Linked DNA regions of Homo sapiens: region 2 is linked to region 1. Evidence: fine-mapped expression QTL. A gene starts in region 1. The other region holds a variant in brackets. All regions are shown on one strand. Distances are between the middles of the regions.

Region 1 (5,381 bases):
TTATCTTTCTGTACAAATTTTACTTCATGCATCAGGATCTTAAGCTATGGAATGTAACACTGTAGCTATGCTCTAATATAAGCAAAAAACAAACAAACAAAACAAAAAAATCCTTTGCAGAACAAAGCAAGGTATGAAGGGATAACTGAGATCTCTCTGTTTCCAGGGCTTTAAGGATTAGGGAAGGGTCCACTCCTTCTCTGGTGTATTTAATACATTAAAGAGGATCCACAGGTTCCTTCCAGTACACATCTTCCATCGTCTATTTGCAACCTATTTCTTCTTTTTATATTGTCTTCAATAAATCCAACATTCTCCCTACTGCTCTCTTCTACTAGTAGAGTGGGTCCCATAATTCCTTTTTCCCACAACAGAATTAGAGCAAAATCCTGAGTGAATAAAATGTTCTTGTTCTCAGCACAACATGCAGAGTCCCCCTTCTATGTTTTTCTACCTGCCTATTTTAAAAAGGTAATGTATTTTTTTTTGGTCAATCTTAGTTTGCTTTTCATTTTGTGAACAATATATTCTCTCCTACCTCAAATGACCCAAAAGCTGCATTCATTTAGAGTTAATCAGCTTAGGTATTGGTTAGTAGTGGCCAGAACAGTAGTTTAGGAGTCAGGAAACAGAGCTTCCTAGTACTGGCTCTGCCACTAAACGTCATTTTGGAGATTTATGGGCCTCAGTTTCCTCATATGTTAAACAAGGAGGGTAAAGCTGGTCTCTGAATCCCTTCCTGATAGTCTATGGTACTGTGAATTACAACTATCAATTAGTATGATGCAACAAAAGGTGAAGAGCAAAGTTAGTAACATATGTAGTGAATGCATTTTTCAGACATTTTTACGGTATCTAGAAAACCTTATAATACTGAAATGTGAAATCCAACATCTCATTTTAAAAGTCTAGTTTAAGAAGTAAGATTTAGGCCAGGCGCAGTGGCTCACGCCTGTAATCCCAACACTTTGGGAGGCCAAGGTGGGCGGATCACAAGGTCAGGAGATCAAGACCATCCTGGCTAACACGGTGAAACCCCGTCTCTACTAAAAATACAAAAAATTAGGTGGGCGTGGTGGCGGGTGCCTGAAGTCCCAGCTACTCGGGAGTCTGAGGCAGGAGAATCGCTTGAACCCGGGAGGCAGAGGTTGCAGTGAGCCGAGATCATGCCACTGCACTCCAGCCTGGGCGACACAGTGAGACTCCGTCTTAAAAAAAAAAAAAAAAGGAAACAAGATTTAGTAATCCCAGATCTTCAGAAATACAGTTAACCATCATTTAGTGTAGTGTTTCTAAATCCTTTTTTCATTATTGACCCTCTAAAAAGCCTTTTTAGACATTTTTCCCCTAATTGCTCCCCCTTCGTGAAATTTTAATAACACATATATAGTATATATCTGTGTACATACTGTATGTATATCTGCGCTTTATACATAAAAAGAGTAAAAATTTTTCACACTCCCCCAAGAACTATTTTCTCTTCCCCTTGGGGGAAGTATCACCCAGTGAGAATGTGTAATTTAGGAGATCAAGCTTCTGTGGTACCAAAACTTTCTGCTCCAATAAAAAATAGGTGTAGGCCAGGAGCAGTGGCTCACGTCTGTAATACCAGCACTTTGGGAGGCTGAGGCAGGCGGATCCCCTGAGGCCAGGAGTTCGAGACCAGCCTGGCCAACATGGTGAAACCCTGTCTCTACTAAAAATACAAAAAATTAGGCCGGGCACGGTGGCTTACGCCTGTAATCCCAGCACTTTGGGAGGCCGAGGCGGGCGGATCACGAGGTCAGGAGATCAAGACCATCCTGACTAACACGGTGAAACCCTGTCTCTACTAAAAATACAAAAAATTAGCCGGGAGTGTTGGTGGGCGCCTGTAGTCCCAGCTACTTGGGAGGCTGAGTCAGGAGAATGGCGTGAACCCGGGAGGTGGAGCTTGCAGTGAGCCGAGATCACGCCACTGCACTCCAGCCTGGGCGACAGAGTGAGACTCCGTCTCAAAAATAAATAAACAAATAAATAAAAAATAAAAATACAAAAAATTACCAGGTGTGGTGGTGGGCGCCTGTAATCCTAGCTACTAGGGAGGCTGAGGCATGAGAATTGCTTGAAGCCAGGAGGCGGAGGTTACAGTAAGCTGAGATCGTGCCAATGCACTCCAGCCTGGGCGACAGAGCAAGACTCCGTCTCAAAAAAAGACAAAAAAAAAAATGTAAAAAAGTCCAAAGCTTATTTGCTTGACAACCATTTCCATTCAAGCGGCTGGAGGTGAAGGTCAGAGGTGACAAAGCAGCTGAAATGACAAATATTACAGTCATGGCAGAAGATCTGGAGGTGAGTGGGGGAGGATACTAAGTTTCTTCAAAGGAGTGGGTAAGAAATGGGTTGAAGTTAGAAAAAAGCCGTGCTCCACACCAACTGGCTGCTACTTTCGGGTCCGAGTGGACTATCAGGGGAGGATGTTCAGATTCAGATGTTTGTCAACCTCAGGGTGGGTGCGCGCTCCCCCTCAGGTCAGCCCGTCCCACTACCCCCACCCAAGGTTGAGGGTGGGATCTCCGGACACCAGGAACAAGGGAGTTACCTGCAGAACCTCAACAAATAAAGGGACGGGAATTCTATAGGAAATCACTTTCCCGAACACCTCCTCCCCACCGCTTGCCTCCTCCAGTATCTCAACCCGGCTCACCCAAGTCCATTGATCAAAGGGGCACTGTTGACTCTTCTCAGAATGTTGCCGTCTGCGGTAGTGGAACTCGGCAGCGACTTGAAACCTAGTTTCATTTTCTCCTGTGCCATGTCCGGGTCGAGGAATAAGTTCTCAAGGCTTTCCGGCTCCCGTCCACACAAGGACAAGTCTACTTAGTGGGCAGGTGATGTAAGGAGAGAGGCAAAGGGGAAAAAGAGAAGAGAGGAGAAAGCTCTTAGGCGAGTAGGGGTGCCCACCTTTGCAGCCCTAGCAGCCCTAACATCAGTGAACACAAAGTTAGGCAGAACTGGCTCCGAACCGCCTATCTCCCATGATCGGGGCCTCTAACGATGAGAAGATCCCCCACCTCCAAGTCTATAATGTAACTGGGGAATTTAATCTGTCACCGCCGCGAATCCTTCTCCATCTCTCTCAGCCCTGGCAACTCATGGTAAGCCTTTCCGGCCAAAACAAAAACTACAATCTGCCGCCTTTGACAATCAGTTGGGTCCCGCCCCTCAGAGCCTGCGATAAGCTATCAGCCGGACGACGCCTGTTGTGATGCAGGCAATGACGTCACTTCAGGCGCCTTAGTCAGCTTTGCCAGGGGCGCACGCGCAGTTAAGAAACCGCTTTATCCCCATGTCCTGCCCTCCTTCCTCTTTCCCCAATGCCCACTTACCGTGGTTGTGCCTCTACTCTTTTACTAACCCTGGCATGGTTTCCTTAAGCATTATTTAGAAATGAAAGCGTTGGGAGGAGTGAGGTCCTTCCTGCCCTATGCCTAATTCTCATTTTTCTTATCCCTTTATGACTGAGGCCAACAAGCTTCTAACCTCCTATGATGCATTTTTCCATCCTGTAACAGCAGACACACTACACCTTTGTAATTTTAGAAAAGCAAAAGTCTGAAAAAAAAAAAAAAAAAAAGATACTGCTACCTAAGTGCTTAGAGGCCACTTGGTCCCAAAGGGTCTTGCTAAGGTGCTAACCTAACTGAGCTCATTTGGCAAACGAATTACTGTTTTCAGTGTGGTTTCTTTCTTTCTTTTTTAAACCATAATCGTACAGTTTTTTGTTTTTTTTTTTTTGAGATGGAATTTCGCTCTTGTTGCTCAGGCTGGAGTGCAGTGGCCGCGATCTCGGCTCACTGCAACCTCCACCTCCCAGGTTCAAGCGATTCTCCTGCCTCAGCCTCCCGAGTAGCTGGGATTACAGGTGCTCGCCACCACGCCTGGTTAATTTTTGTATTTTAGTAGAGACGGGGTTTCACCATGTTGGCCAGGCTGGTCTCGAACTCCTGGACCTCAGGTGATCCGCCCGCCTCGTCCTCCCAAAGTGCTGGGATTACAGGCGTGAGCCACCGCGCCTGCCTCAGTGTGTATTTTTACATTATATATAATCTGGCTCCTCACAGCTATTCATATAAAAAATAAAGACCTCAGCTAATTTACAAAGATTTGAGTTAAAGCAGTGAGGCTTTTTTAAAAACAAATATCTCAGAATTTAGTATCAATGCAAATCAGTGTTTTCATTTCAGGTAGTATTAGAAGCTACATACATTCTAAGAATGCTGCCATGGCTCATATCGTTTTAAGAACTACTCTTTTAGAAATTTTCACCATCACTTAATGAGCCACACTGAGTACTGAAATCTTAACTCCATGCTAATAATTTTGTAAAACCACACATTTTAGTAACCATATAGAGAACTGGCAGACAAGGCAAATAAACCTAGTGAAATGGGAGTTATTAATTAAAATAGTCATAACACTGGTATAGCACTTTACGGATAACATTTTTTTTTTTTTGAGACGGAGTTTCGCTCTTGTTGCCCAGGCTGGAGTGCAATGGCGCAATCTTGGCTCACCACAACCTCCACCTCCCTGGTTCAAGCGATTCTCCTGACTCAGCCTCCAGAGTAGCTGGGATTACAGGCATGTGCCACCACTCCCAGCTAATTTTGTATTTTTAGTAGAGATGGGGTTTCTCCATGTTGGTCAGGCTGGTCTCGAACTCCCGACCTCAGGTGATCCACCCGCCTCGGCCTCCCAAAGTGCTGGGATTACAGGTATGAGCCTCCACGCCTGGCCTACAAAATGTTTTCACATACTTATCTGGATTGGTTCAATCATCAACCCTGCTCAGCTACCCAGTGGTGAACTTAAAATAATGGGACAGTCTTGAGATAGTTCGTGACAAGTTATGACATGTAAGGTAATAAATATGTATTCTTTGTTCATTCTGGGAATAGAATAAGACAAACTTGAGTATATTAGGCAGAATTAGATTACTTAAATCCCAGACATGAGGATGATGTGGAGTCTCCATTCCTTATATAAGACAGATTAGTAATAGCTACCGTTTGTTGGGCACTTACTATGTGCCAGGTACTGTCCTAATCACTTTAAATAGGTGATTGCATTTAAAGTTTACAATAATTCTTTGAGGTAGGCACCATCACAATGCCCATTTTTCACAGGAGGAAACCAAAGCCCAGAGGGGTTTACTCAAGTTGCAACTACTAAGTGGCAAAGCCAAGATTCCTCTGCCCTTCTGTTTAAGTAAAAAAAAAAATGAGATGCCTCAGAATATCTCCTTGAATTTCTGTACTCATAAGCACTTGATAAATACTTCTGAAATTATTTTATGAATAAATGCAGGTTTAAATAGCCTATCTTTCATAGTTATCTTG
Region 2 (5,381 bases), 29 kb before region 1:
CTCCCAGACGGGGTCGCGGCCGGGCAGAGGCGCTCCTCACATCCCAGACGGGGCAGCGGGGCAGAGACGCTCCTCACTTCCTAGATGGGATGGCGGCCGGGAAGAGGCGCTCCTCACTTCCTAGATGGGATGGCGGCCGGGCAGAGACGCTCCTCACTTTCCAGACTGGGCAGCCAGGCAGAGGGGCTCCTCACCTCCCAGACGATGGGCGGCCAGGCAGAGATGCTCCTCACTTCCCAGACGGGGTGGCGGCCGGGCAGAGGCTGCAATCTCGGCACTTTGGGAGGCCAAGGCAGGCGGCTGGGAGGTGGAGGTTGTAGCGAGCCGAGATCACGCCACTGCACTCCAGCCTGGGCACCATTGAGCACTGAGTGAACCAGACTCCGTCTGCAATCCCGGCACCTCGGGAGGCCGAGGCTGGCAGATCACTTGCGGTTAGGAGCTGGAGACCAGCCCGGCCAACACAGCGAAACCCCGTCTCCACCAAAAAAATACGAAAACCAGTCAGGTGTGGCTGCGCGCGCCTGCAATCGCAGGCACTCGGCAGGCTGAGGCAGGAGAATCAGGCAGGGAGGTTGCAGTGAGCCGAGATGGCAGCAGTACAGTCCAGCTTCCGCTCGGCATCAGAGGGAGACTGTGGAAAGAGAGGGAGAGGGAGACCGTGGGGAGAGGGAGGGGGAGGGGGGAGGGGGGGAGGGGGGAGGGGGAGGGGGAGAGGGAGAGGGAGGAAAATGATGTTTTTTAAAAAAAAAAAATTTGGCCAGGCACAGTGGCTTGTGCCTGTAATCCCAGCACTTTGGGAGGCCGAGGTGGTTGGATCACGAGGTCAGGAGATCGAGACCATCCTGGCTAACACGGTGAAACCCCGTCTCTACTAAAATTAGCTGGGCGTGGTGGCAGGTGCCTGTAGTCCCAGCTACACGGGAGGCTGAGGCAGGAGAATGGCGTGAACCCAGAAGGCAGAGGTTGCAGTGAGCCGAGATTGCGCCACTGCACTCCAGCCTGGGCGACAGAGCGAGACTCTGTTCCAAAAAAAAAAAACATTTATCTTGGTCTTCATTGTGGAAGTTGGATAAACTGGGAGAAACAGAAAATCTACTGGGATATTATTTCAGTAATCTAGACCCATGGGACAGAAGAAGGAAGCAGCAGTGACAACAAAGAGGATATTGTCAAGGAAGAATTAGTAGGATTAGAAGCCTAATTGGATACAGTAGAAAAATAAGGAAGAACTGAAGAAAAATCAAGAGCTTTGAGTCTTAAACCTGTGACTATTTTGATACCATACAATGAGGTATCAAATCGAGAGCTTTGAGTCTTAAAACTGTGACTATTTTGATACCACACAATGAGGTACAGAAAATGAGGGAATTGGAAAAGGTAATTTAAGAAGATAATTAGTCTTTTAAAAGCAATGGAATAACAGTAAATTCAGCAAAATGTAATTGTTAGTATAGTTCTTCAATTTAATATTATATAGATAGTCTCCTCTAGTGTGAAACTCAAAGTATTTTGTAGTTCATTCGGTCAACAAGTACAGAGCAGGTAGTTTTGTGAAACTGAGATAGAATTCTGCTTAATATTCCTCCCACTGAAAGTTGGAGCATTAGCTAAAATCAGCTATTGAAGGTTGTTAGGAGAAGAGTGTTGACTCTTTTTCATTTATGTCTTGCCTATTTCCAAAATGGATTTGAGATGGTTTATAATAAAATAAGATTATTAAAATAAGTATAAAAGGTCAACAGCCATGCATTATAACTGTAAGAAGCAGAGTACAGTATACTAGAAACCTAGTTTAAGGAGAATTGTTATACTTGGATGTTAAAGTTAGCTTTCCATTTTTCAGGATACATGGTAAAAATGGGAACTGTAAGTTACCAACTTTTGCTCTCCGAGGAGACTACATCTGAAAGATTTTAGTTACTGAGTGCCTGCACAGTACCCAATAAAGGCTTGTTGAAAGAATGAAACAATCTGTAAACTAAAATCAAATTTAAATTTTTTTTTTTTGGAGAAGGAGTCTTACTTTGTCACACCAGCTGGAGTGAGTGCAGTGGTACAATCTCAGCTCACTGCAACCTCTGGTTCCCGGGTTCAAGCGATTCTCCTGCCTCAGCCTCCCGAGTAGCTGGGATTACAGGCATGCCTCACCAGGTCTGGCTAATTTTTATATTTTTAGTAGAGATGGGGTTTCTTCACGTTGGTCAGGCTGGTCTCGAACTCCTGACCTCAGGTGATCCACCCGCCTCGGCCTTCCAAAGTGCTGGGATTACAGGCGTGAGCCACCGTGCCCGGCCAGCAAATTAAAAAAAAAATTTTTTTAAAGAC[G/A]GAGTCTTCTTATGTTGCCCAGGCTGGTCTTGAACTCCTGGCCTCAAGTGATCCTCCTGCTTTGGCCTCTCAAGTCACTGGAATTACAGGCACGAACCACCACGCCCAGCTCAATTTCTTCTTATTGATTTTTACTTAAGACACTACAGAGAAAGTTAAGTTGTTACTGGGTGCCAATGACTCATATCCTGTTTAACAAATCAGGAATTAAATATAAAGCTATATAACAAAAAACTGTGAGCAGACTGTTATGGGTTGAATTGTGTCCCCTCAAATTCCTGTGTTGAAGTCCTAATCCCCAGTGCCTCAGGATGTGACCTTATTTAGAGACAGAATATATTCAGAAGCAAGCAGATTAGGATGAGGTCATTAGGGTGGGCCCTAATCCAATATGACCGCTGTCCTTCATGAAAAGGAGAAACTTAGAAACAAACACATGTACACGGAGAACACTATGTGAACATGAAGATAGCCATCAACAAGCCAAGGGCAGAGGCCTGGAGCAGATCCTCCCTCACAGTTCTCAGAAGGAATCAACCCTACTGACACCTTTATCTCAGACTTCTAGCCCTAAGAAATGTGAAACAATATATTTCTGTTGTTTAAGCCGCCCAGTTTGTGATACTTTGCAATGGCAGCCTGAGCAAATATACAAACTGTTTCTGCATGGCACTAATTTATGTTTAGAGCTTTGGGAAACAGGGAACTACAGACTGAATGCATTCGGATCTTTTGGAATACAAGCTCAATTTTTATTAGGGGCCACACGTGGTGGCTCATGCCTGTAATGCCAGTACTTTGGGAGCCTGAGGCAGGAGTACCACTTGAGGCCAGGATTTCAGGACCAGCCTGGGCATCACAGGGAGACGTCATCTCTCCAAAAATTTAAAAAAATGGCCAGGCGTAGTGGCTCATGCCTGTAATCCCAGCACTTTGGGATGCCGAGGCGGGTGGATCACCTGAGGTCAGGAGTTCTAGACCAGTCGGACCAATATGGTGAAACCCCGTCTCTACTAAAAATACAAAAGTTAGCCAGGTGTGGTGGTGGGTGCCTGTAGTCCCAGCTACTCGGGAGGCTGAGACAGGAGAATTGCTTGAACTCGGGAGGCGAAGGTTGCAGTGAGCCGAGATCATGCCACTGCACTCCAGCCTAGGCAACAGAGCGAGACTCCGTCTCAGAAATAAATAAATTAATTAAATAAAATAAAAAAATTATCCAGGCATAGTGGTGTGCACCTGTAGTCCTAGCTAGTTGGGAGGCTGAGGCAAGAGGATCACTTTAGCCCAGAAGGTTGAGGCTGCAGTGAGCTATGATCATGCCACTACACTCCAGCCTGGGCAACACAGCAAGAACCTGTCTGAAAAATAAATAAATAAAATAAAATTTTTATTAGAAAGGAAAATTACACAAAATAATTCCTATGTAGGAATAATAACTGTGTTTAGAAAATTAACTTCTAGCTTGATGTCTCAGTCTCTTTAATACTTAGAAAACAGCTAACAACAACAGTTGAGAAGAAATTGTCCATTACCTGCTTAATAGGAAAGGTGTAACATAAACCAAATATTGGCCCAGAACCTAACATTGACTTGGAGCTGTGTGTTCATTTAAAATTAAAAGCAAATTTCATCATACTATTTTACAGGAGGCCAGGCGCGGTAGCTCATGCCTGTAATCCCAGCACTTCGAGAGGCCAAGATGGGCGGATCACCTGAGGTCAGGAGTTTGAGACCAACATGGTGAAACCCCCTCTCTACCATGGCCAACATGATGAAACCCCCTCTCTACTTAAAAAAAAAAAAATTTAGCTGGGTGGGGTGGTGGGCGCCTGTAATCCCAGCTACTCGGGAGGCTGAGGTTACAGAATCGCTTGAACCAGGGAGGCAGACGTTGCAGTGAGCCGAGATCGTGCCACTGCACTCCAGCCTGGGCGACAGAGTAAGACTCCGTCTAAATAAATAAATAAATAAAAATTAAAAAAACTATTTAACAGGAAATAGAGGATAAAACAACATAGTAACACCACATGGAAGCAAAATCAGAATGTGGGACATTTTACAGGACAAATGGACTCCCTGGTTTCTTCAATAAATAAGAGGCATGGAACAAAAAACAGGCAGAAAATGCTGTTTTACAGCATGGTGCTGGTACCAAAACAGAGATATAGACCAATGGAACAGAACAGAGACCTCAGAAATAACACCACACATATACAACCATCTGCTCTTCAACAAACCTGACAAAAATAAGCAATGGGGAAAGGATTTCCTATTCAATAAATGGTGCTGGGAAAACTGGCTAGCCATATGCAGAAAACTGAAACTGGACCCCTTCCTTATACTTTATACAAAAATTAACTCAAGATGGATTAAAGATTTAAATGTAAAACCCAAAACCATAAAAACCCTAGAAGAAAACCTAGGCAATACCATTCAGGACATAGGCATGGGCAAAGACTTCATGATGAAAATGCCAAAAGCAATTCTAACAAAAGCAAAAATTGACAAATAGGATCTAATTAAACTAAAGAACTTCTGCACAGCAAAAGAAATTATCATCAGCGTGAACAGGCAACCTACAGCATAGGAGATAAGTTTTGCAATCTACCCATCTGACAAAGGTCTAATATCCAGAATCTACAAGGAACTGAAACAAGAAAAAACAAACAACCCCATCAAAAAGTGGGCAAAAGATATGAACAGACACTTCTCAAAAGAAGACATTTATGTGGCCAACAAACATACGAAAAAAAGCTCAACATCACTGATCATTAGAGAAATGCAAATCAAAACCACAGTGACATACCATCTCATGCCAGTCAGAATGGCGATGACTAAAAACTCAAGAAACAATAGATGCTGGCAAGGCTGTGGAGAAATAGGAACGCTTTTACATTGTTGGTGGGAATGTAAATTAGTTCAACCACTGTGGAAGACGGTGTGGCGATTCCTCAAGGATCTAGAACCAGAAATATCATTTGACCCAGAAATCCCATTACTGAGTATATACCCAAAGGAATATAATTCATTTTACCATAAAGACACATGCACAC

Evidence for each region.
Region 2: its variant is fine-mapped to the expression of PABIR3 in whole blood (TOPMed, PIP above 0.99). The same link has a PIP of 0.9 or more in thyroid.

What each region holds. Positions count from the first base shown.
Region 1 is chrX:134,805,014-134,810,394 of GRCh38, reverse strand. PABIR3 (PABIR family member 3) reads right to left here and starts at 3,158. Exons shown (of 11, transcript NM_001388447.1): 1 at 3,054-3,158; 2 at 2,687-2,855. The coding sequence starts at 2,796. RefSeq lists enhancers at 1,300-2,256, 2,642-2,801.
Region 2 is chrX:134,833,980-134,839,360 of GRCh38, reverse strand. The region is part of intron 4 of PABIR3 (PABIR family member 3); the gene reads right to left. Among named protein-coding and RNA genes, the nearest start is that of PABIR3, 29 kb to the right of the region's middle. The variant G/A (reference allele first, on the strand shown) is at 2,329.